3 separate regions of the Homo sapiens genome follow, and regions 2 and 3 are each linked to region 1. The links come from fine-mapping of genetic effects on gene expression. A gene starts in region 1. Each other region holds a variant in brackets. All regions are shown on one strand. Distances are between the middles of the regions.

Region 1 (8,190 bases):
GAAGTAAGATTGACGTCTTCTCACAGCCTATTTTGTTCTTGTCTACAAAGGGGAATCTCTTTATTTTTTCTTTTTTAAAAATTTCTTTCCCAGTATAATCAAATCATACACTAAGAGGTTTTAGGTTTCTATTATACATTCTTTCCATTGGAATATTACAAGAGGTGTAATTTTCACTTGACAGAATAAACACAATCAAGTTCTGTGTCTAAGTCATAGAGCCCCATGAATTCCTAACATTTTAACTGCAATTCAATTATTTATTCTGTAACAATGAGGTAATAAACCAGGTACTAAGCAGCAATGTAGACCAACAAGATCCTTGTTCCCAAAAAACTCAAATTATCTGCAGTAAAGGACCAGTTGCTAATTGTTTTTTTAAAAAATTTCTATTCATTGGCCAGGCGCAGTGGCTCATGCCTGTAATCCCAGCACTTTGGGAGGCCGAGGCGGGTGGATCACCAGGTCAGGATATCGAGACCACCCTGGCTAACACGGTGAAACCCCATGTCTATGAAAAATACAAAAAATTAGCCAGGCTTGGTGGCGGGCGCCTGTAGTCCCAGCTACTCAGGAGGCTGAGGCAGGAGAATAGCATGAAGCCGGGAGGCGGAGCTTGCAGTGAATCGAGATCAGTCACTGCACTCCAGCCTGGGCGACAGAGCGAGACTCCATCTCAAAAAAAAAAAAAATTATATTCATTGTGGACCAGCAATTTTTAAGATACAATTAAGTTTCTAGTCCTAGTGCAGTAACTCGTGCCTGTAATCCCAGAGCTTTAGGAAGCTGAGGCAGGAGGATTGCTTGAGCCCAGGAGTTCAAGGTTGCAGTGAACTGTGATCAGGCCACCTGGGGGACAGAGTTAGAATCTGTCTCTAAAAATAACAATAATTTTTATAAAGTTTCCAGAAAAAAAAGGCATACAAAATAAAATCCCAAACGTTTCATTACTAGAGTCAATAGACATAAAATTATTCTGCTAAGTTGCTACACAAGTTTCTAAATGCTTAGTTTTCTTTTATTATCTCAATCCCAGCAGCCCCGTAACTACACTTTAAGCAGTACTGCTATAAACTCCTACCACACAGAGAGGCATTGCTGCACATTTCTTAATCTACGACTGTGCTTTATCCGGGAAGAGCAGGCATTTTTTTTGTATTTTTATTTACTCATATCTTTCTTTTATCCAGACACATTTTCCACAGTTTAGAGTCTGTGCAAATCTTCCTGGCCTCCTGCCACTCACAGCAATCTTGATCCATCTTTGAGATTCCTCACTTCATTCCTAAAAAAACTAATGATCTGCCCCAAATTATATATTAACTGTGAAACTTTGCATTTTCTAGTAATTCATTTCTCCCTTTGGTTCCAAATATTTCAATTCCTTAAAAGAAAAACAAAAACAAACAAAAAAACAGTGCTTAAAAGTACTTTGTGTCTAGAATTATAAGGGAGACTTTAAAAAGTATCGTTTTTGTGATAAATACTCTTAGAAAGGTAATGAGTACCCAGTCACTGAAGGGTGGTGTCTGCCTTTCATTTTTCTTTTCAGGCTGGGATAGGGATAGTGTGTGGGTGGGTGGGCAGTGTTCCCACACAGCTAGCCAGAGAAGGGACCAGGGAGCTGCTACAATCCCAGTTCCACTGTCTTGGTCCTGAAACCTGAATGGAGGCCGGGCACAGTGGCACACGCCTATAATCCCAGTGCTCTGGGAGGCTGAGGCAGGCGGTTCACCTGAGGTCAAGAGTTCAAGACCAGCCTGGCCAACATGGCGAAACCCTGTCTCTACAAAAATACAAAAATTAGCCAGGCATGATGGCGGGTGCCTGCAATCCCAGCTACTCAGGAGGCTGAGGCAGGAGACTTGCTTGAACCTAGGAGGCAGAGGTTGCAGTGAGCCGAGATCATGCCATTGCACTCCAGCCTGGGTGACAGAGCGAGACTCCGTCTAAAAAGAAAAAAAAGAAAAACTTAATGGAAGGAAGTCTGATGTTTCCCCAGAACAAATGCTCAAAGCAGTCACTACTCACTGGCACTCTAGCTGGACCTTGCTCCTGGGCAAGTGCTACAAAGAAAAACACCTCTAAGGTGGTGGGAAGAAGAACGGGACACTGAGAAAAAGGGGGAATACAGTGCTGCTGGGAATGGTTAGGTAACTGATGGCTCCGGCCCTCCCTCAAATTTCTAACATAAAAAGATGTTGGTACTGGGAAGAGAAAATAAGAACACCATAACAGGCTGGCTGCAGTGGCTCACGCCTGTAATCTTGGCACTTAGGGAGGCCGAGGCGGGTGAATTATTTGAGCCCAGGAATTTCCAGACCAGCCTGGGCAACATGGCAAAATCCCATCTCTATTAAAAAATACAAACAAATTTAGCCAGGCATGGTGGCCCCTTGCCTGTAGTCCCAGCTACTTGGGGGGCTGAGGTGGAAGGATCACTTGAGCCCAGGAGGTCAAAGCTGCAGTGAGCCGAGATCACAGCACTGCACTCCAGCCTGGGTGACAAAGTGAGACCCTGTCTCAAAAGAAAAAAAGGAACAACAATAAGAACACCATAACAAATAAATATTATTTTTGGTGCATTGACAATTGTGTATAAATCAACACTTCATTAATATGAGAACAGAAGGATATCAATTTGTTGGTTGCTGACCAATATTATCAACAATTCAAGGCTTTACTAACAACCAACCAATGATTTGGCAGGTCTCTCAAACGAGGGGAAATAAAGAATTTTATGAATTCTCAAAGATGGAAAATAGAAAACTGATGACCACACAGCCTTCAAAACTTGCCCAATACCTCTAATATCCACGGCAATCAGTTGCTCACGTAAGGAACCAGCATTTTGTGGAGTAGTAGTTAATAAAGATGACAAGTGAAGAATAGAGAATAAACTTAAATTCTACAAAGATATGAAAAGTTATTGAGGCACAAGTCCAAAGGCTATAATAAAGAAAAAAGAAAAAAAGTTTTGAAAAATTAAAATGTAAATAAAGATGTGGTGGGAGATCTATCAGGGAAGTGCAGGAAGAACCAAGCAACTCACAAACCACCCTCTGGCTGGATGTGCACAGCCTGCCCAGTCCCGTCCGGCGAGTCACCTCAGTCCCATCCAGGTAAGGCCGGACAGGTGGCTCCCCAGGTGGCAAGAGGCAAGCGAGCGGCCCAGGTCATACACCGGGCCCCTGGCACCCTCAGCCTGGACAGGAAGGGCGCGCGGGATTCAGCCCAGACGAGGGAGGGAACGCGAAGACTCAGCCGGTCTGGGCGCGCCGTTCTGGCCCCAGGGCCCGCGGGTGCTGCAGGTGGCCGCGTCCAGGGCGGTAGGTGGGGCCTGCCCGCTCGCCTCCCGAGGCCGGACCCCGGGACTCAGCGAAACCCAGTCAGACCCGCGCCCCACGCCCGCCCCCAAGTCACCTTCTGCACGCTGGAGCCGCAGACCCGCGCCGCCCGGTCATAGACGTGGCAGCGGATCACAGAACTGCCCACATCCAGCCCCAGCACGAAGCCGGGGTACCGCGGCTCCTGCGCTCTCTGCTCCGGGTCCGTGAGCAGCCCCGACATCCCGATCCCGCACGCCTCTCCGCTACAGCCGCCTACCCAGAGGGCGCGCTACAAATCCCAATGCTCCAGAGTCCCCGGGCGGCCCAACCCGGGCCCCAACCCGGCTCAGCCGGAGAGCCTAGAGAGGCCTGGCCCCTGCCGCCGGCTCCACCCCGACGCCGTGACGCCACGGGCGCGCGCCGGCGGCCGCGCGGGAGGGGTGGAGGTGAGCGGGTTTGCGCCGTGATCTGCAGCCCCAGATCGCCAGCCATGCTCAGCCTCCAGTCGCCGGCCGCGGTTGGATTGACTTGGCCCTTAACTCTTGTTTTTTTTCTTTTTGAGACGGAGTCTCACTCTGTCGCCCCGGCTGGAGTGCGGTGGCGCGATCTCGGCTCACTGCAACCTCCGCCTCCCGGGTTCAAGCGATTCTCTTGCCTCAGCCTCCCGAGTAGCTGGGATTACAGGCGCGCTCCACCACGCCCGGCTATTTTTGTATTTTTAGTAGAGAAGGGGTTTCACCATGTTGATCAGGCTGGTCTCGATCTCCTGATCTCGTGATCCGCTCGCCTCGGCTTCCCAAATTGCTGCGATTGCAGGCGTGAGCCACCGAGCCCGGCGGCCCTTAACTCTTAATTTTTTCTTTTGCTTCTCCAGCTTCCTGAGAGGCAGCGCCAGCGTTTCTCTTAACCCTAGCTACATTTGAAGAATCTCTGTTAAAGAAAAATAGCTACCCCATATGCTAATCGTAAGGAGAGAAGTATAGGCTAGTTTATATAAAAATCTCAAAAAGTTTGGAGGTGCCATAAGGCACATTTATTCATTTCTCAACTATGATTATGACTTGAGGGTTGGAGAAATTTTTATCTGAGTAACTTTGGCAGACTAACCTGTGTCTGCGTTCGTGCAGAATTTTTCAAGCTTAAAACATTTGTAGAGGTCACTACCATATATAGTTTCCATTTTTTTGCTAACATTTTGGGTGCGACTTTATTTCAGTATTATTAAATGCACAGCCATTGAATATGCTAGAGTTAAATGAAATAAAGTGCTGTTTTTCAAAAATGAAATAAAACAAGTGACATAAAAAATTCAAAATTTGGCCAAAAGTATTAATATTTATTAACAAACTGAGAGCTCCCCACGACTTCTCTTCCCAGAAAACCTGGTAAAGTTTGCACACAATACAAAGCGGTAAATATTTGCCAAATGAAATACAACGCAAGGAAGAAGACTTTTCTCAGCCCTCTAGTGGGAAAGAAAGGAGAAAGCTTAAGGTGGCTGCTTTGACCATCACACTCCACTCCAGCGGTTGCTTTTTTTTGGAATCTGAAAGCCTCACAGAGACCCTTTACCTTTTGTTGCTGCCCAAGGGGATGGGCTCATCCAGACACTTGGCCAAAAGGAACAAGGTGTCCTGTGGAAATTTCGAGATTCTTGCGGCTTAGGTTCCTGGGCCTGGAGCTTTCCCGGGGAGGGTCCTGATCTGCAAGTAGTGGGGAGGTGGTTCCACCTGCGCCACCCACCTCTCCACTGCCACCAGCAATCTGTGAAGCCGGGGCCTGAAAATATTCCTTATCTTCTTTTTGTAAAATTAGCAAACATATGAATATATGTTTTGTGTGAAAACGTTTAACAGTGCCAACTGGTATGTCAATTAAAAGGTAAAAGATAATCATTTTGGCTGGGCGCGGGGGCTCACGACTGTAATCCCAGCACTTTCGGAGGCCGAGGCGGGCGGATCACTTGAGGTCAGGAGTTTGAGAGCAGCCTGGGCAACATGGTGAAACCCCGTCTCTACAAAAATACAAAACTTAGCCGGGCGTGGTAGCGGGCTCCTGCAATCCCAGCTACGGGGGAGGCTGAGGCAGGAGAATTACTTGAAGCCGGGAGGCGGAGGTTGCAGTGAGCCGAGATCATGCCACTGCACTCCAGCCTGGGCGACAGAGCAAGACTCTGCCTCAAAATACATACATACATACATACATACATACATACATACATACATACATACTTACATACATACATACATACATACTCATTTTGAATCAAAACTTTTTTTAGACAGGGTCTTGCTCTGTCGCCCAGGCTGGAGTGCTGTGGTGCCATCTCAGCTCACTGCAGCCTCGACCTCCCGGGCTCAGGCGATCCAACTGCCTTAGCCTCCCATGTAGCTGGGACTACAACCACCACGCCCGCCTAATTTTTGCATTTTTTTGTAGAGACTCTGTTTCGCCATATTGGCCAGGCTGGTCTTGAGCTCCTGGCCTCAAGTGATCCTCCCACCTTTGTCTCCCAAAGTGCTGGGATTATGGGTGTGAGCCATTGTGCCCAGCCAAATCATTCTTTTTTTTTTTTTTTCTTTTTTGAGACGGAGTTTTGCCCTTGTTTGCCCAGGCTGGAGTGCAGTGCTGCGATCTCGGCTCACTGCAACCTCCGCCTCCCGGATTCAAGCGATTCTCCTGCCTCAGTCTCCCAAGTTGCTGGGACTACAGGCCCTCTCCACCATGCCCAGCTAATTTTTGTATTTTTAGTAGAGACGGGGTTTCACCATGTTAGCCAGGATGGTCTGGATCTCCTGACCTCGTGATCCGCCCGCCACGGCCTCCCAAAGTGCTGGGATTACAAGCGTGAGCCACTGCACAGGGCCAAGTCATTCTTTTGACCAAATTGTCGTGTTAATCAACTTGCTTTCAGACAATTTGACAAAATTGGCTCTTTGGCCATACAACGTGAAGCTTGGAACATACACCTGGAAGAGTATGTTTTTTTTCTTTGTACCCTGTTCAACAGTACTGATTTGTTCCAAGTGGCCTCAAGGACTGACTGCCTTCACCAGTGCTGGCCATTTTGGTCGTGTGTGTGTGTGAATTATTGTAATTCGAAATAAATGACTAATGGGTCCAGTACTTGTCAGGGTTCTACAGAGAAATAGAAACAATAGGATAGAGAGAAAGAGAAAGAGAGGTTTATTATTTTCAGGAATTGCTTCATGTGATTGTGAGGGCTGGCAAGTCCTGGATATTTGTGGGGCAGGCTAGCAGGCTGGAAACTCAAGAAGAGTTTCCATGTTGCAGTTTTGAGGAGACTTCCTTCTTTGGGAAACCTGTCTTTGTTCTTAAAGCTTAAAACCAATTGTATGAGACTCACCCAGGTTATGAAGGGTGATCTGCTTTACTCAAAGTCTACTAATTTAAATGTTAATTATTTCTAAGAAATACCTTCACAACAACACCTAGACTGGTGTTTGACCGAACAGCTGGGCATACAGTGTGTCTAACTAGCCTAGCCAAGTTCACACATAATAGTAACCATATCAGTTCCCCATTCACAACAGAGAAAACGGCTTTGTATTACCTGATGTTAATATTTAGTATATTTCTCAAAGTGATATTTCTTGGCTTCTTGAAACCTGACACTTCCTTAATGATCCTTTTTATAAATTCAAATAAATTATATTGAGTATTATCAAATCATAGAATTTGAAAACAGGGGCCTTAGAAACCACTTAATCTAGTGTTTCTCAAATTGTTTTCAGATCTTGAACAACTTTGAGGCCATAATGAACACTATCTTCCCAAGAAGATGCTTATACACACAAAATTTTGCACATAACTTCAGGTGCTGGGTGTTGGGTAAAGCAAACATAAAGATCTCAGATAAAAATCAAGATCTTATTTCACTGTTGAGTAGGAGAGGCCTGGGAGAACAAAGAGATACCTGTTTCTCCCACTTGCTTTGTTCTCTGTCAGCACCTCTAACCCTGCTCTTCTCTAAGGGAAAGGAGTATATGGGCAACAAGGCACAGGGCTCAGAGGCTTCTAAGGCCTTTGATAGCTGGTCAGTCATTCTTTTTTCTTAATTTTTAAAAAATTTTATGGATACATAGTAGGTGTATATATTTTTGGGTTACATGAGATATTTTGATACAGGCATGATAATCACATCAAGGTAAATAGGGTATCTTTTATGTCAAGCATTTATCCTTTGTGTTGCAAACAATCAAATTATACTCTTATTTTTAATGTACAACTAAATTGACTGTATCAAAAAATAGTCGATGTTGGTGTGAATGTGGTGAAAGGGGAACACAGACTGCTGTTGGGAATGTAAATTAGTACAGCCTCTATGAAAAACAGTGTGGAGATTCCTTAAAAGAGCTAAAAGTAGATCTACCATTTGATCCAGGATTCCCATTACTGGGTATCTACCCAAAAGAAAATAAGTCATTATATGAAAAATACACCTACACAAATATATTTATTATGGCACAATTCACAATTGCAAAGATATGGAACCAACCTAAGTGCCCATCAACTAATGGGTGAATAAAGAAAATATGGTATATATATATACACACACTATGGAATACTACTCAACCATAAAAAGGAATCAAATAATGTCTTACAGCAACTTGGATGGAGCTGGAGCCCATTATTCTAAGTGAATTAACCCAGGAATGGAAAACCAAAGAAGTAGGAGCTAAGTACACAAAGGTACACAAAGTCATATAACGGACTTTGGAGACCCAGAAATGGGAGGGTGGGACGGGGGTGTGTGATAAGAAGCTACCTACTGGGTACAATGTACACTACTCAGGTGACTGGTACACTAAAATGTCAGAATTCACCACTATATAATTCA
Region 2 (8,190 bases), 590 kb after region 1:
CAGAGAAACAGAGCTACTAGGATATTTGCAGGCACACATGTATGTGTGTGTATAGTGATTTGTTTACAGGGATCTGACATTACACAACTGTTGGAGTTGGTAAGCAGTCTCTGTAAGTCCCTGTTTTTTTATCTAATGCTGGAGCAGAGCTGGAAGTCCACAGGGTAGGCAGGTGGGAAGAAAAGATGGATGTCAAGTGGGAGAGATCAGGGACAAGCTAGAACCCATGAAGACAGACCGAGTCCCATGTGACTCCTCACATCTCCAACCTTATGATGTGGTACCCTGTTGGAGAAGTGTTGCCCTTTGCCACTTGCTTTTGCAAGTATGTTACTAAACACTCACTTGGCCCAGGAATCAAGAGAAGCTGAAGCAGGATCCAAGGAAAGGTGGGTCAACTGTAGGCCTGGCTGCTGCCCCACATTAGCAAAGTGAACCAGCAGATAAGTTACAGCACGTGTGAGCTGCAGAAGTGCCCGCATCAAGAACAAAACGGCTGCTGCTTCACTTCTGCTCTCCAGTCTTGCACTAAAATGTCTCTTGTAACTGGAAGCATACAAGAAAGGGAATTTTGGGAAACATAATTAGGCCTAGCCAAGTTGATACATTATAAAGCCACCACAGGAACAAACTGCTGATATATGCAATAGCATGGATGGATTTTAAAAGTAAGTGAAAGAAGCCAGTCACAAAAAGCTACAATACTGTATGGTTCCATTTAGATGACATTCTAGAAAAGACAAAACTATAGGAACTGAAATCAGATCATTGAGTACCAGGGTCTAGTGGTCTAGGAGACAACTGACTGCACAGCTCATCAAACTGTATGCTTAAAAAGAGTGAATTTTAATGTATAGAAATTATGCCTTAATAACCCAGACAAAAAATCTAAAATACAATGCTACAACATACTAAAATAAATAAGAAAATAACAGTGGAATCTTAAAATTCATTACCACTGCCAAAGAAAGCAGTGCTTGCATCTGCAAGTTGGTAGCCCATCACTCACACAGCACAGTGGGGTACAGTAATAAATGCCAAGGTGAATAACTTCGTATTACTTTTTCAAAATTATTTTTGCTATCCAGGTTCTATGATTTTTCATTTAAATTTTGGAATCTATCAATTTCTTAAAAAATAAACGGGATTTTTATTGGAATTGCATTGAAACTAGAGACCACTTTGGGAAGAACTGACGTCTTTACAGTATTGTCTAAACTATCAACATGATGTAGCTTCTCATTTATTTAAGTCTTCCTTAATTTCCCTTAGCAATGTTTTATAGTTTTTAGCATTGAAATCTAATAGCATTATATATTAATAACTAAAAAAATAGAATGAGATTCTACTCACATGCAATCCCAATGAAGACCAGTTTGCTTATCATTTAGTTATGTGTTCAGATTTCAAAGCTTAACATCTTTCCTTAAAGTAACTACAGGTTGTTGTTATTAATTGTTTGAAGGATACAAACCAACTGCTAATCATTGACAGTCTTTCTTAAAAAATGATAAAAGTGGAAGTGCTCTTAATCTTATTAATAAATACTTATTATCTCTTTTCTACCTGATAAAGAAAACTTTCTTTGATTCCTTAGACTTCAAAATTTTTGTTTTCCTCAGAAAATACGTGTATAAAATACCAAATAAATTGAGGGTATAGATCCTGGGAGTAAACCAACTGGGTCTAGTTATTCAGATTACACTAAGAAACTAATAATAGTATCAGGGATAATCACTGCTCTGAATTCCTCATTTATAAGTTAATGTATTAGTTTTCTGGCATCACGGCCCCATTCATAAACAAGCTGTGTTTCTGGAGGATATACTTAGAAGAATTTCCCATTACAGTGCTTCTCTTCATTTGATAATTTCACATTGTTTTTTCCTATTCTGCTCTCCCTGCCCCCAGACTGAAATAAATACTTCAGATATGCAACACATAAATTAGGAAAATTTTTATATACTAGTTGATGCTTTAAAAATAACCATCTTCTGTAATCCCAGCACTTTGGGAGGCTGAGGCGGGTGGATCACAAGGTCAGGAGATCGAGACCATCCTGGCTAACACAGTGAAACGCCATCTCTACTAAAAATACAAAAAAATTAGCCAGGCATGGTGGGGGGGGCCTGTAGTACCAGCTACTCGGGAGGCTGGGGCAGGAGAATGGCATGAACCTGGAAGGCGGAGCTTACAGTGAGTCGCGATCACGCCACTACACTCCAGCCTGGGCGATGAAGCGAGACTCTGTCTCAAAAAAACAAAAAAACAAACAAAAAAAACCATCTTTAAGAGACATGATTTCTGATATAAATTAAATTATAGTAATAAAAGAGGCAAAACAGCAGGTTTGTGTAGGAGGTAAATGTATACTTAAAAAAAAAACAAAAAACAAAAACTACTATCCCAGCCAATCCAATATGTGACACAGTAAGTTCCTTTTTCTTCATCCTGCTACCAAGAATCTGGAAAATTATCTCTCTCTCCCTCTCTCTCCCCACTAGAAAGGTTATTTAATTCATCCTTCAATTTTAGGCAAATTTATTCTTATTGAAAGATAAAATGGGCCGGGCATGGTGGCTCACGCCTGTAATCCCAGCACTTTGGGAGGCCAAAGTGGGTGGATCACCTGAGGTCGGTAGTTTGAGACCAGCATGACCAACATGGAGAAACCCTGACTCTACTAAAAATACAAAATTAGCCTGGCGTGGTGGTGGCGCATGCCTTTAATCCCAGCTACTCCGGAGGCTGAGGCAGGAGAATAGCTTGAACCCGGGAGGTGGAGGTTGTGGTGAGCCGAGATTGCGCCATTGCACTCCAGCCTGGGCAACGAGAGTGAAACTCTGCCTCAAAAAAAAAAAAAAAAAAATGAGATAAAATGATTGAGTGCTGTTTTAAAAATTTTAAGGAGGAAAATGCACAAGCTACCTCAGTAACTCATTCAGAAATTGAATTAATTCTGTGAGGTAATTCAGCTTCTCATTTTAAAATTCATTTCCTCCAATTTTATTTCAACGGAAAAAGCAATCACAATATTTTCTGTGTTTGCTTGAATGCAGATGTTTTCTTCTCCCATCCACCCCCGCTGACCCCAGTGACAGAGTCTCACAATATTTTCCAGGCTGGAAGTACAGTGGCTATTAACAGGTGCCATCATAGCACACTACAGCCTCCAACTCCTGGGCTAAAGAGAACCTCCTACCTCAGCCTCCCAAGTAGCTG[G/A]GACTACAGGAGTGTGCTACCACACCCAGCCTCTTTCTTTTGAAAAGCTGTAAAACAAGACCAGGCACAAGAAGGAACAGTTCTCTCATTCTCTTTTGTATCCTCACTCTAAGTATAGTATTAATGTTGAATGGCACAAAGTTATTGAATAAAAATTTAGCCATTATCCGTTAGTGTAAATATTCTAGGAATGACAACTAGTTTATTAAATACTCTTAACAATTGTGTGCTCCAGATCCTATTTTCTCAAACTACATTAAAAGAAAACTTAGATTCCCTACTTCAACCTTCTAATTTAATATACAGGAAAACTAGCATTTTGAGTAATTTGTCCAAGTGTATATACTGACTGGAGATACTGAATTCAATTGATTTTTCCTATCAGTCAATATATATCCAAAAGCTTTCCATTTTTGAATTAGCTTCTCATTGTAGGTTCATCTTGGTCAGCAAACAGAACTTAAGTTCCTACTTTTCTAAATAACTAATTTGTTAAAAACTTTTATGACGAGGGTCAAGCAGAGACCAGCAAGATGAGCAAGAGTTGGAGGAAAAGGATGGACAGGTAGGTAGTGAACATCATAGGAAAGGGGGAGTTAGCCTCAGAAAGTAACAGCCAGACCAGAAGGGACCAGAGTGTTTAAAGCACACAGACTGGTGAATTTTATTTCTGTGCCACTTTCTATCCTAATCAATTTGAATATTCAGCCAGGCGCAGTGGCTCATGCCTGTAATCTCAGCACTTTAGGAGGCCAAGGCAGGTGGATCACCTGAGGTCAGGAGTTTGAGACCAGCCTGGCCAACATAGTGAAACATTAGCTGGGCATGGTGGTGTGCGGCTGTAATCCCAGCTACTCAGGAAGCTGAGGCAGGAGAATAGTTTGAACCTGGGAGGCAGAGGTTGTAGTGAGCCAAAATCACGTCACTGCACTCCAGCCTGGTCAACAGAGTGAAACTCCATCTCAAAAAAAAAAAAAAAGTACATATTCAAGGATCCAGAAACCACTTAAGACCATAAGGGATCTCAGAAAGTATCCAATTCAACTTCATGTTACAGATAAGGAAACTAAAGTTCTCCCATTGCCACACTGTGAATGAGAATCCAAGTCTTTTTCCTTTTCAGCTGGGAGGCTCTTACCTGCATTATGTTACTATTAATATCAGTTTTTTTGTGAGATGAATTAATCAGATATATGAAGTCTTACTTTCAGCTTGTAAATTTTCTTCATAGGTTTCTATACTTAAAAGCTTCATCTCGTTGAAATCTAACCCAATCTTAGTATTAGAATGCTACAGGGACATCATTCAGGCAAAGATGTTTCATTTATATCTAATCAAATTTTAGCCTTTTAAACTCAATTGTTGATTTTGTTTTTAAAAGGGAGAAGCAAATGACAAAAAAATCAAAACCAGGATTTTTAATAATAACTTTAGAATACTTCAGAACAAATTTTTATGTATATCCCAGAGCTACTCACCCAGAACACCCGATTCCATGCATCCATGGGCAATCCCACACTTGTACATCCAGAGAGCCTTTGTCAAAAAGAGGCTATTCGTGGCCCAGTGCTGTGGCTCACGCCTATAATCCCAGCACTTTGGGAGGCCAAGGCAGATGGATCACCTGAGATCAGGAGTTCAAGATCAGCCTGAACAACATGGCAAAACCCCATCTCTACTAAAAATACAAAAATTAGCTTTTCTTAATTTGGTCAGAGTTTTGTCAATTATATTAGTCATTTTAAAGAACCAACATTTGGCTTTCCTTTTTTCTATTATTTAAGATGACAATTTTATTCAATTTCTGCTCTATGCTATTTTATCCTACCTTTTAAAAGTTTATGGTGTTTTCCTTTTACTAAGTTCCCAATTTGTATCATTCACAAATTAATAATTTCCATCCTTTCTTTTATAATGTAAACATGTAAGATTATAAATTTTAAAGTGTTATTTAAGCTGCATTTCACACATTTTAAAATGCAGTTTTTCTATTGTTCAGTTTTTAATATTTTGTTTTCCATTATGGTTTCCTTTTTATCATGAGTTGAAAGTACATTTCTTAATTTCCAATTTTTTTCTTGTTTTTTGTTGTTTACTTTTTGTTATTAATTTCTAGTCATTTACTGTTAGAGAAGGCTGTTCGATACCAGTTGTTTGAAATTTGTTGGAATTTGCTTCATGGTGCATGGCAAGTTCTGAAATTGTTCCATACGAGCTCAAAATAATGTGCCCTTGGTTCTGTTCTACATATGTGTGTTAGGTAAATCTAGCTAATTGTGCGGTTCAACACTTCTATATTTTTAATGTTTTCTCTTTTAAATCTGTCAATACTGAGAGAAACATGTTAAAACCTCCCCTTATGATGGTAAACTTGTCCATTTCTATTTATACTATATCAGATTTAGTTATATATTTTGAAGGATGTTATTAGCTGTGTGCAAATTTAGAATTGTTATATCTCCTTGTAACTCTCTTCATCTTGAGTAATGCCTTGAAGTATTTTTTTTCTGGTATTAATAAAACCATACCATTTTTATTTTGGTTAATGTTTGCCTGGTATACTGTATTTATCTTTTTCTATCCCTTTCCTCTCAACTTTTCCGTGTCCTCATGTTTTAGATGTCTCTTTCAAATAGCACATAGCTGTATTTCTTTTTCTAAGCCAGTCTGACCATTTTGACGTATAACTTTCAGGACTTAGTTTAGGTGTTTACTGAAATTATTGATATGTTTGTATTTTTACCTTATTTTGTTGTATTTTTCCTGGTTTCACTTTCTTTAATTTCTTCTTTTTTTTCCTCTGCTGGTTTTAAATGTTGATGCTCTATTTATATTATTTATGCTCTATTTATATTATTATTTTATTATATTACCCTAGAAAAATTAATGTAAATACTTAAATTATCAAAGTCCTAAGTTAATATTTTTATCTTTCTCTCTCTCAATACGAGGTCTTTAGAATACTTAGGTCAAATCTTTTTAAAAAACATTTGCTTGCTAATTGAATTTAATTGCAAATTTTTTGTTTCCATTTATATAAAAAATATAAATTTGTTTGCTTGAATCCATGAACTCAAGCAAAAGGTGTTTCTGATTAATATTACTTAACTCACGTTAGAACTTTCTCATTAGTGCCTGTTTAATTACAGGGCTTTTCTTTAAGGGAGTTTTTTTTGTCATTAGTTGATACCATTTAAATAGTCCAGAAGTAAATGGGAGCCTGGTAGCAGTAGTCTATTAATACATGAAAGAAAAGAAGGTAAATGTCTTCCAATTAAGGTTAACTTGGAAGTAAATTACAGAATTTAAGACTTGGGAACTTGGGAAAAATCTTAAATGTTCATTTACAGGAATTCAAAGGATGAAAATCAAGCTAGCAAGATGCTCTGAAACAGTGAGATTTATTTATAATTTTGAAATGTTTTGTGATATGTTAGTATGGTCACCTATTCATTCTTCATGTGTATTTGATTCCCCAAGTATAAATACTTAAAAACAAAAACAAAACCTTATCAACTATTCTTGAAAAATAAACAATTCCTAAAAGAGAAAATAGTATGGGATCCCAGAAGTTATGTAGTCTAACTCCCTCAAATTATAACTAAGGAAACTAAACCTCAGTCAAAATAAAGGTGTCTTAGTCCGTTCTGTGCTGCTATAACAGAATATCTGAGACTGGGTAATTCATAAAGAACAGATATTTATTTCTTACAGTTCTGGAGGCTGGGAAGTCCAAAGTCAAGGGCCCACATCTGGTGACGGCCTTCTCACAGCATCATCCCATGGCAGAAGGTGGAAACGCAAGAGAGCACATGAACACATCAACACATGTGCATGCCCAAAAGAGAAAGACAAGGATGGAGTGGGGACGCAGGGGGCCAAATTCATCCTTTTACCAAGGACCCATTCTCACGATAACTCACTCACTCCCATGATAATGGCATTAATCCATTCGTGAGGGCTCTGCCTCATAAAAGAGCCCACCTCTCAACACTGTTGCATTGAGGATTTACTTTCCAACACATAATTTGGAGGATACAGTCAAACCATAGAAAAATGATTGTTTAAAAAGGAAAGAAATTACAAAGTGGTTGTTATTCCAGAAAGAGCAGCTTCACGATTCATCTTATCTCTATGTTTTGAATAACTGAAGTAAAAGACAAACCAGTGCCACACACTTTTAACCGTGAATCCCCTAAGCAGTTGTAAAATACTGTGTCAGAGATGTCAATAGTATGAATAGTTTAGATTACTCTTCTCAGTTTTTACCCCACTGTGACTCAAGCCCCCACTCACCTGAAGAAGTCTTTCCGCTGGTCATGCAGAAGCTTGATACCCGCCAGCATGCTGCTTGTAATTCACCAATAGGAGATTCTATTCAGAAAGAAGAAATACTGAAATCTTTAGGATTCCCTCCTAAGTCCCGGAACATGTATTCTTAAAGGGAAGCAACTTGCTTTGAGAAGGCTGGAATCAATGAGGAGTCCACAGTTACATCCTGTGCTGGGCGCAGCTGGTCTGCGAAGTTCAGCTGGCTAAGAGAACTTTCTAAAAGCTGACACTGGCCAGGGAAGCCAGTCACCCACTGTCATCAGGGTCTTCTAGTTCATCTACTTCCTGCTGACGGCTCCTCAGTGGGAAAGTATAGGAGCAGTTTCTGACCTGCCTGTCAGCCCAATTTTGTCGTTTCCTTAGGCTCACCCAGCTGCCGTAACAGAGGGAACAGAGTTCCTTCTGAACTTCTATTTTGCCACCCTTTAAATGTCTGGTCATCCTAGGGCTGGGAATTATTGTTTTCATCTAAAAGAGTATTTTCCCTTATTTCCAAAACTTTGCTTCTACCGTGGAAGAGTTTGTGACCCACGTCTTTGTTCATCCCTAATGTTCTTTCAGCCTTCTTTGGATAGGGATGGTTATCCGCTCTCCCACAGCCCCTGGCTGGTAACCTCCTACAGGGCTGGTTGCTGC
Region 3 (8,190 bases), 78 kb after region 1:
TGCTGTATTTGGTTTTCTGTTCCTGTGTTAATTTGCCTAGGATAATGGCCTCCATCTACATCCATGTTGCTGCAAAGCACATGAATTTGTTCTTTTTTATGGCTGTATAGAATTCTATGGTGTGTATGTACCACGTTTTCTTTATTCAATCCACCGCTGTTGGGCACCTAGGTTGATTCCATGTCTTTGCTATTGTGAAGACTCTCTGTTTTTTGTTTGTTTGTTTTTTTCTCTGTCACCCAGGCTGGAGTGCAGTGGCGCCATCATGGCTCACTGCAACCTCTGCCTCCCGGGCTCAAGCAATTCTTCCACTTTAGCCTCCTGAGTAGCTGGGACCACAGGTGTGCACCACCACACCTGGCAAATTTTTTTGGAGCAACTTATTTAAACTCCTGTGTCTGATCTCTATTAATTTAAAAAAAAAAAATAGAGATGGGGTTTTGCCATGTTGTCCAGGCTGGTCTCAGACTTGTGAGCTCAAGCAATCTGCCCACTATGGCCTCCCAAAGTGCTGGGATTACAGGCATGAGCCACCATGCATGGCCTTCTCCAGTCTTAAGAATAGGAATTAATAGGAACTAAGCCTCTCCCTACATTGCTCTGTAACAATCTTCCACTGCATGGGAGGAAAGATAGAGGGAATGATGGAAAGGAAAAGGAGAGAGAACAGAAGAGTCTCACAGGACCTATAAGACAAAAATTCAATAAAAAAAAAACAACAACCAAAAAACCAAGGTATATAGGCAACAAACAGCACAATAAATGGAATGGTACCTCACATCTCAATACTAACATTGAATGCAAATGGCCTAAATGCTCCACTTAAAAGATGCAGAATTGCAGAATGGATAAGAATTCACCAACCATCTGCTGCCTTCAAAAAACTCACCTAACACTCAAGGACTTACATAAACTTAAGGTAAAGGGGTGGAAAAAGACATTCCATGCAAATGGACACCAAAAGCAAGCAGGAGTAGCTACTCTTATATCAGACAAAACAAACTTTAAAGCAACAGCAATTAAAAAAGACAAAGCGGGACATTATATAATGATAAAAGGCCTTGTCCAACAGGAAAATATCACAATCCTAAATATATATGCACTTAACACTGGAGCTCCCAAACTTATAAAACAATTACTACTAGATCTAAGAAATGAGACAGACAGAAACACAGTAACAGTGGGGGACCTCAATACTCCACTGACAGCACTAGACAGGTTATCAAGACAGGAAAGTCAACAAAGAAACAATGGATTTAAATTATACCCTGGAATAAATGGACTTAACAGATATTTACAGAACCTTCTACCCAACAAATGCAGAATATTCATTCTATTCATCAGTGCATAGAAATTTATCCAAGATAGACCATATGATAGGCCACAAAACAAGCCTCAATAAATTTAAGAAAATTGAATTATATCAAGCACTCTCTCAGACTACAGTGGAATAAAACTGGAAATAAACTCCAAAAGGAAGCTTCAAAACCATGCAAATACATGGAAATTAAAAAACCTGCTCCTGAATAAGCATTGGGTCAAAAATGAAATCAAGATGGAAATTTAAAAATTCTTCAAACTGAACGACAATAGTGACATGACTTATCAAAACCTCTGGGATACAGCAAAGGCGGTGCTAAGAGGAAAGTTCATAGCCCTAAATGCCTACATCAAAAAGTCTGAAAGAGCACAAACAGACCATCTAAGGTCACACTTCAAGGAACTAGAGAAACAAGAACAAACCAAACCCAAACCCAGTAGGAGAAGGGAAATAATTAAGATCAGATCAGAACTAAATTAAATTGAAACAAACAAACAAACAAAAAAACAAGATAAATGAAACAAAAAGCTGGTTCTTTGAAAAGATAAATAAAACTGATAGACCATTAGCAAGATTAACCAAGAAGAGAGAAAATTCAAATAAGCTCAATTAGAAATGAAATGGGAGATATTACAACTGACATCACAGAAATACAAAGGCTACTATGAACACTTTTGCATGCATAAACTAGAAAACCTAGAGGAGATGGATAAATTCCTGGAAAGTTACAACCCATCTAGCTTAAATCAGGAAGAATTAGATACCCTGAACAGACCAATAACAAGCAGCAAGATTGAAATGGTAATAAAATTACTAACAAAAAAAAGTACGGGACAAGATTCACAGCAGAATTCTACCAGACATTCAAAGGAGAATTGGTACCAATCCTACTGACACTATTCCACAAGACAGAGAAAGAGGGAATCCTCCCTAAATCATTCTATGAAGCAAGTATCACCCTAAACCAAGGACAGGACATAACCAAAAAAGAACAGTATAGACCAATATCCCTGATGAACATAAATGCAAAAATACTAGCTAACCAAATCCAACAATGTATCCAGAAAGATAATCCACCATGATCAAGTGGGTTTCATACCAGGGATGCAGGAATGGTTTAACATATGCAAGTCAATAAATGTGATATACCACATAAATAGAATTAAAAACAAAAAATCACATGATCATCTCAATAGATGCAGAAAAAGCATTAGACAAAATCCAGCATCCTTTATGATTAAAATTCTCAGAAAAATCGGCATACAAGGGACATACCTCAACATAATACAAGCCATCTATGACAAACCCACAGCCAAAATAATACTGAATGGGAAAAAGCTGAAAGCAGCTGGATGCAGTGGCTCACGCCTGTAATCCCAGCACTTTGGGAGGCCAAGGTAGGCAGATCACGAGGTCAAGAGATCGAGAACATCCTGGCCAACATGGTGAAACCCTGTCTCTACTAAAAATACACACACACACACAAATTAGCTCGACATGGTGGCACATGCCTGTAGTCTCAGGTACTCAGGAGGCTGAGGCAGGAGAATAGCGTGAGCCTGGGAGGTGGAGGTTGCAGTGAGCCAAGATTGTACCACTGCACTCCAGCCTGGGTGACAGCAAGACTCTGTCTCAAAAAAAAAAAAAAAAAAGAAGAGTTGAAAGTATTCCCTCTGAGAATTGGAATAACTCTCACAACTTCCCTTTAACATAGTACTGGAATTCCTAGCCAGAGCAATCAGACAAGAGAAAGAAATAAAGGGCATCCAAATTGGTAAAGAGGAAATCAAACTGTCGCTGTTTGCTGATGATATGATTGTTTACCTAGAAAACCACAAAGACTCCTCCAGAAAGCTGCTAGAACTGATAAAAGAATTCAGCAAAATTTCCAGATACGAAATTAATGTACACAAATCAGTTGCTCTTCTACACAACAACAGCGACCAAGCTGAGAATCAAAATAGCTGCAAAAAAAATAAAATACTTAGGAGTATACCTAACCAAGGAGTTGAAAGACCTCTACAAGGAAAACTACAAAACACTGCTGAAAGAAATCACAGATGACACAAACAAATGGAAACACATCCTATGTTCATGGATGGGTAGAATCATTATTGTGAAAATGACCATACTGCCAAAAGCAATCTACAAATTCAGCGCAATCCCCATCAAAATACTACCATCATTCTTCATAGAACTAAAAAAAACAAAAACAAAAAAAAAACAAATCTGGAGGCATCACATTGCCTGATTTCAAACTATGGTATAAGTCCATAGTCACCAAAACAGCATGGTACTGGTATAAAAATAGGCACGTAGAACAATGGAACAGAACAAAGAACTCAGAAATAAACCCAAATACTTGCAGCCAACTGATCTTCCATACAGTATCAGGGAACCTGCCCTGATAGTCACATAGGTTCTTTTCTATTTTCCCTAAGCATCGGCCAGGTTGAGAAAAAAAGGGACAGAGTACAAAAGGGAGAAATTTTAAAGCTGGGCATCCAGGGGAGACATCACATGTCGGTAGGTTCCGTGATGCCCCACAAGCCACAAAACCAGCACGTTTTTATGAGGGACTTTCAAAAGGGGAGGGAGTGTACAAACAGCGTGTGGGTCACAAAGGTCACGTACTTCACAAGGTAATAGAATATCACAAGGCAAATGGAGGCAGGGCAAGATCACAGGACCACAGGACCGGGGTGAAATTAAAATTGCTAATGAAGTTTCGGGCCCCATTGTCATTGATCACATCTTATCAGGAGACAGGGTTTTGAGAGCAAACGGTCTGACCAAAATTTATTAGGCGGGAATTTCCTCTTCCTAATAAGCCTGGGAGCGCTATGGGAGACTGAGGTTTATTTCATCCCTACAGTTT[C/T]GACCATAGAAGACGGCCACACCCAAGGGGGCCATTTACAGACCCACCCTCAGGGGTGCATTCTCTTTCTCAGGGATGTTCCTTGCTAAGAAAAAGAATTCAGCGATATTTCTCCCATTTGCTTTTGAAAGAAGAGAAACATGGCTCTTTTCCGCCTGGCTCACCGGCGGTCAGTTTAAGGTTATCTCTCTTATTCCCTAAACAATTGCTGTTATCCTGTTCTTTTTTCAAGGTGCCCAGATTTCATATTGTTCAAACACACGTTCTACAATTTGTGCAGTTAATGCAATTATCACAGGGTCCTGAGGTGACATACATCCTCCTCAGCTGACAGGATTAAGATATTAAAGACAGGCCTAGGAAATCACAAGGGTATTGATTGGGGAAGTGATAAGTGTCCATGAAATCTTCACAATTTGTGTTTAGAGATTGCAGTAAAGATAGGCATAAGAAATTATAAAAGTATTAAATTGGGGAACTAATAAATGTCCATGAAATCTTCACAATCCATGTTCTTCTGCCATGGCTTCAGCCGGTCCCTCTGTTTGGGGTCCCTGACTTCCCACAACAATAAAGCAAACAAAAACATAAAGTGGTGATAGGACACCCTATTCAACAAATAGTGCTGGGATAATTGGCAAGCCACATGTAGGAGAATGAAACTGGATCCTCGTCTCTCACCTTATGCAAAAATCAACTCAAGATGGATCAAGAATTTAAATCTAAGACCTGAAACTATAAAAATTCTAGAAGATAACATTGGAAAAACCTTCTAGACATTGGCTTAGGCAAGGATTTCATGACCAAGAACCCAAAAGAAAATGCAATAAAAACAAAGATAAATAGCTGGGACATAATTAAACGAAAGAGCTTTTGCACAGCAAAAGGAAGTCAGCAGAGTAAACAGGCAACCCACAGAGTGGGAGAAAATCTTCACTATCTATACAATTGACAAAGGACTAATATCCAGAATCTACAACAAACTCAAACAAATCAGCAAGAAAAAAACAAACAATCCCATCAAAAAGTGGGCTAAGGATACGAATAGAAAATTCTAAAAAGATGATGTACAAATGGCCAACAAAGATATGAAAAAATACTCAACATCACTAACAATCAGGGAAATGTAACTTAAAACTACAATGCGATACCACCTTACTCCTGCAAGAATGGCCCTAGTTAAAAAAAAAAAGAACAAAAAATGATATATGTTGGTGTGGATGTGGTGAACAGGGAACACTTCTACACTGTTGGTGGGAATGTAAACTACTACAGCCACTATGGAAAACAGTGTGGAGATTCCTTAAAGAACTAAATGTAGAACTACTATTTGATCCAGCAATCCCACTATTGGGTATCTACCCAGAGGAAAGGAAGTCATTATATGAAAAAGATACTTGAACATATATTTATAGCATCACAATTCGCAATTGCAAAAACGTGGAACCAGACTGGGTGTGGTAGCTCATGCCTGTAATCCCAGCACTTTGGGAGGCTGAAGCAGGTGGATCACCTGAGGTCAGGAGTTCAAGACCAGCCTGGCCAACATTGTGAAACCCTGTCTCTACTAAAAATACAAAAATTAGCTGGGCGTGGTGGCATGTGCCTGTAATCCCAGCTACTGGGGAGGCTGACGCAGGAGAATTGCTTGAACCTGGAAGGCGGAGGTTGCAGTGAGCCGAGATCACGCCATTGTACTCCAGCCTGGGCGATAAGAGCAAAAACTCCATCTCAAAAAACAAACAAACAAAAAAACAGTGGAACCAAACCAAATGCCCATCAATCAACAAGTAGATAAACTGTGGTGTGTGTGTACAGACAGACATATATGTACAGACATATATGTACATACAGACATATATGTACAGACATATATGTACATACAGACATATATGTACATACACACACACACACATAGTGTATAGTGGAATACTACTCAGCTATAAAAAGGAATGAATTAGTGGCATTTGCAGCAACCTGGATGAGAATGGAGACTATTATTCTAAGTGAAGTAACCCAGGAATGAAAAACCAAACATTGTATGTTCTCACTCATAAGTGGGAGCTAAGCTATGAGGATGCAAACGCATAAGAATGACACAATGGATTTTGGGGGTCAGAGGGAAAGTGTGGGAAGGGGCCAAGGGATAAAAGACTACAAATTGTGTGCAGTGTATACTGCTCAGGTGATGGGTGAACCAAAATCTCACAAATCACCACTAAATAACTTATTCATGTAACCAAACACCACCTGTTCCCCAATAACCTATGGAAATAAAAAAAATTAAAAAATTGGCCAGGCATGGTGGCATGTGCCTGTAGTCCCAGGTACTCAGGAGGCTGAGGCAAGAGAATCGCTTGAACCTGGGAGGTGAAGGCTGCAGGGAGCCGAGATCTCCAGCCTGGGCGACAGAGCAAGATTCTGTCTCAAAAACAAACAAACAAAAAGACTAATGTTTCTACTTTTGATATCAGCATAGTAATAAAAGAACAAACAGCTTATAAAATCATTCTCAAGTCTTTAATTAAAATCCATAGAGCATTTAACATGAACAGATGTTTAAACTCTTTCAGTGACTCTCATATTTTAAAATCCTTTGCACAGCATCGTGAGGCTAACTTCATGCTAGAAATCTACGGATAACGTAACACCACAAAAATACATTCGGAGTCCATTCCAATGCAAGTTTAAAACACTTTAATTGGCAGACAATGTAAAGATATTTAAAATCAAAAATTACAAAATGAGCACATAAAAGTCTTCCCTTTTGAATTTTTAATAAAATACTTCTCTGTATAAGATCTAATGAAAAATTCCAGTTACTTATAAAATAGTTGAGAAATCAATTAAGATATGTATCTATATATGTATGAATTACACTTTTGTTTAAATGAACAAAATGTTGAACACTTCAATGACAGCACAGCATCTATTACTCACATTAAACTAGATGAAAATACTCAAAGAAGCAGTTGGATACAGGCAAAAGAAAATATGATACTTAAAGCCAAAAGACAAAAAAATCCAAAAAACGAAAACAACCTCCCCATCCCCCACCAAACCCTTAACTGTAAGGGAAAGAAAGGAAGAGAGAACTTAAAGCTAACTATGGACCAAATTCTCATTCTTTTTAATGAGAAACAGCATGAGAATTTGGCTTCAAATTACTAAAACAGCTACAGAAACCTATTTGGCCTGGACAATTTAATAGTATACCAACTGCTGAAACAACCAAGTGCAGTTGGTGTACGGCTGGAGGGAAAAAAAAAAAGACTTTTTACAGGTTTAACTTTGTAAAAAAATGTATCTTTTGGAAACCATAGTCTCCTTCACAAATTGCACTTGAGATGGCTGAATGCATTGATTGAGCAAGGCATTATTATTTGTTCACTGACACACACACAAAAGCAGCTACAGATAGTTGACATTTTGGACTACTAAAACTATTTTATACATGTTTTTCTTCTTTAAGAAAAGGATCTATGATGTCTGTGAAACTTAACGGCCTGTCTGCTCTGCCATGTTTCTGGAGACTTGATGCTGGTTCAACACTATCTCTTACTGTATTGGAGAAGTTTGATGGAAATATGAATAAAGTCAGTCCGAACGACATTAATTTCTGGAATTTTAAGCTTTATCTTGACTAGGAAAGGAAGCTCCTGCAAAACTGATGGTTTCACTGACAAAGCTTACAAAATGTATATACTGAGCACTGCCAGTTTGAGTACTATAATTTATCTCTAGAAAAATGACAAATGAACTTCTGCAATTGATTTTTAAAGACAGAGAACGACTTTCACAGCCACTTCTCTACAATAAATTAATTGTCTTCTACAGTAAAAACAAAATTTGGAAGCAACATGATACCAAGAAATACAGCAAGCTCATAAGGCTGAGAAATTGTACAGTTGCTTTAAAAAACTGTGCTCTAAATAATGGGAAGAAGCGTGACAGAACTAACTTGAGTGAAGATCTGCACAGCTCTATCTCA

The links. PIP is the estimated chance that this variant, and not a neighbour inherited with it, causes the effect.
Region 2: its variant is fine-mapped to the expression of GK5 in whole blood (INTERVAL, PIP 0.94).
Region 3: its variant is fine-mapped to the expression of GK5 in esophagus mucosa (GTEx, PIP above 0.99).

What each region holds. Positions count from the first base shown.
Region 1 is chr3:142,221,886-142,230,075 of GRCh38, forward strand. GK5 (glycerol kinase 5) reads right to left here and starts at 3,700. Exons shown (of 16, transcript NM_001039547.3): 1 at 3,424-3,700. The coding sequence starts at 3,570. RefSeq lists silencers at 3,234-3,453, 3,644-3,883.
Region 2 is chr3:142,809,017-142,817,206 of GRCh38, forward strand. No RefSeq gene overlaps it. Among named protein-coding and RNA genes, the nearest start is that of PCOLCE2, 76 kb to the right of the region's middle. The variant G/A (reference allele first, on the strand shown) is at 3,223.
Region 3 is chr3:142,299,910-142,308,099 of GRCh38, forward strand. It overlaps XRN1 (5'-3' exoribonuclease 1), which reads right to left. Exons shown (of 41, transcript NM_001282857.2): 41 at 6,701-8,190. Among named protein-coding and RNA genes, the nearest start is that of GK5, 78 kb to the left of the region's middle. The variant C/T (reference allele first, on the strand shown) is at 4,200.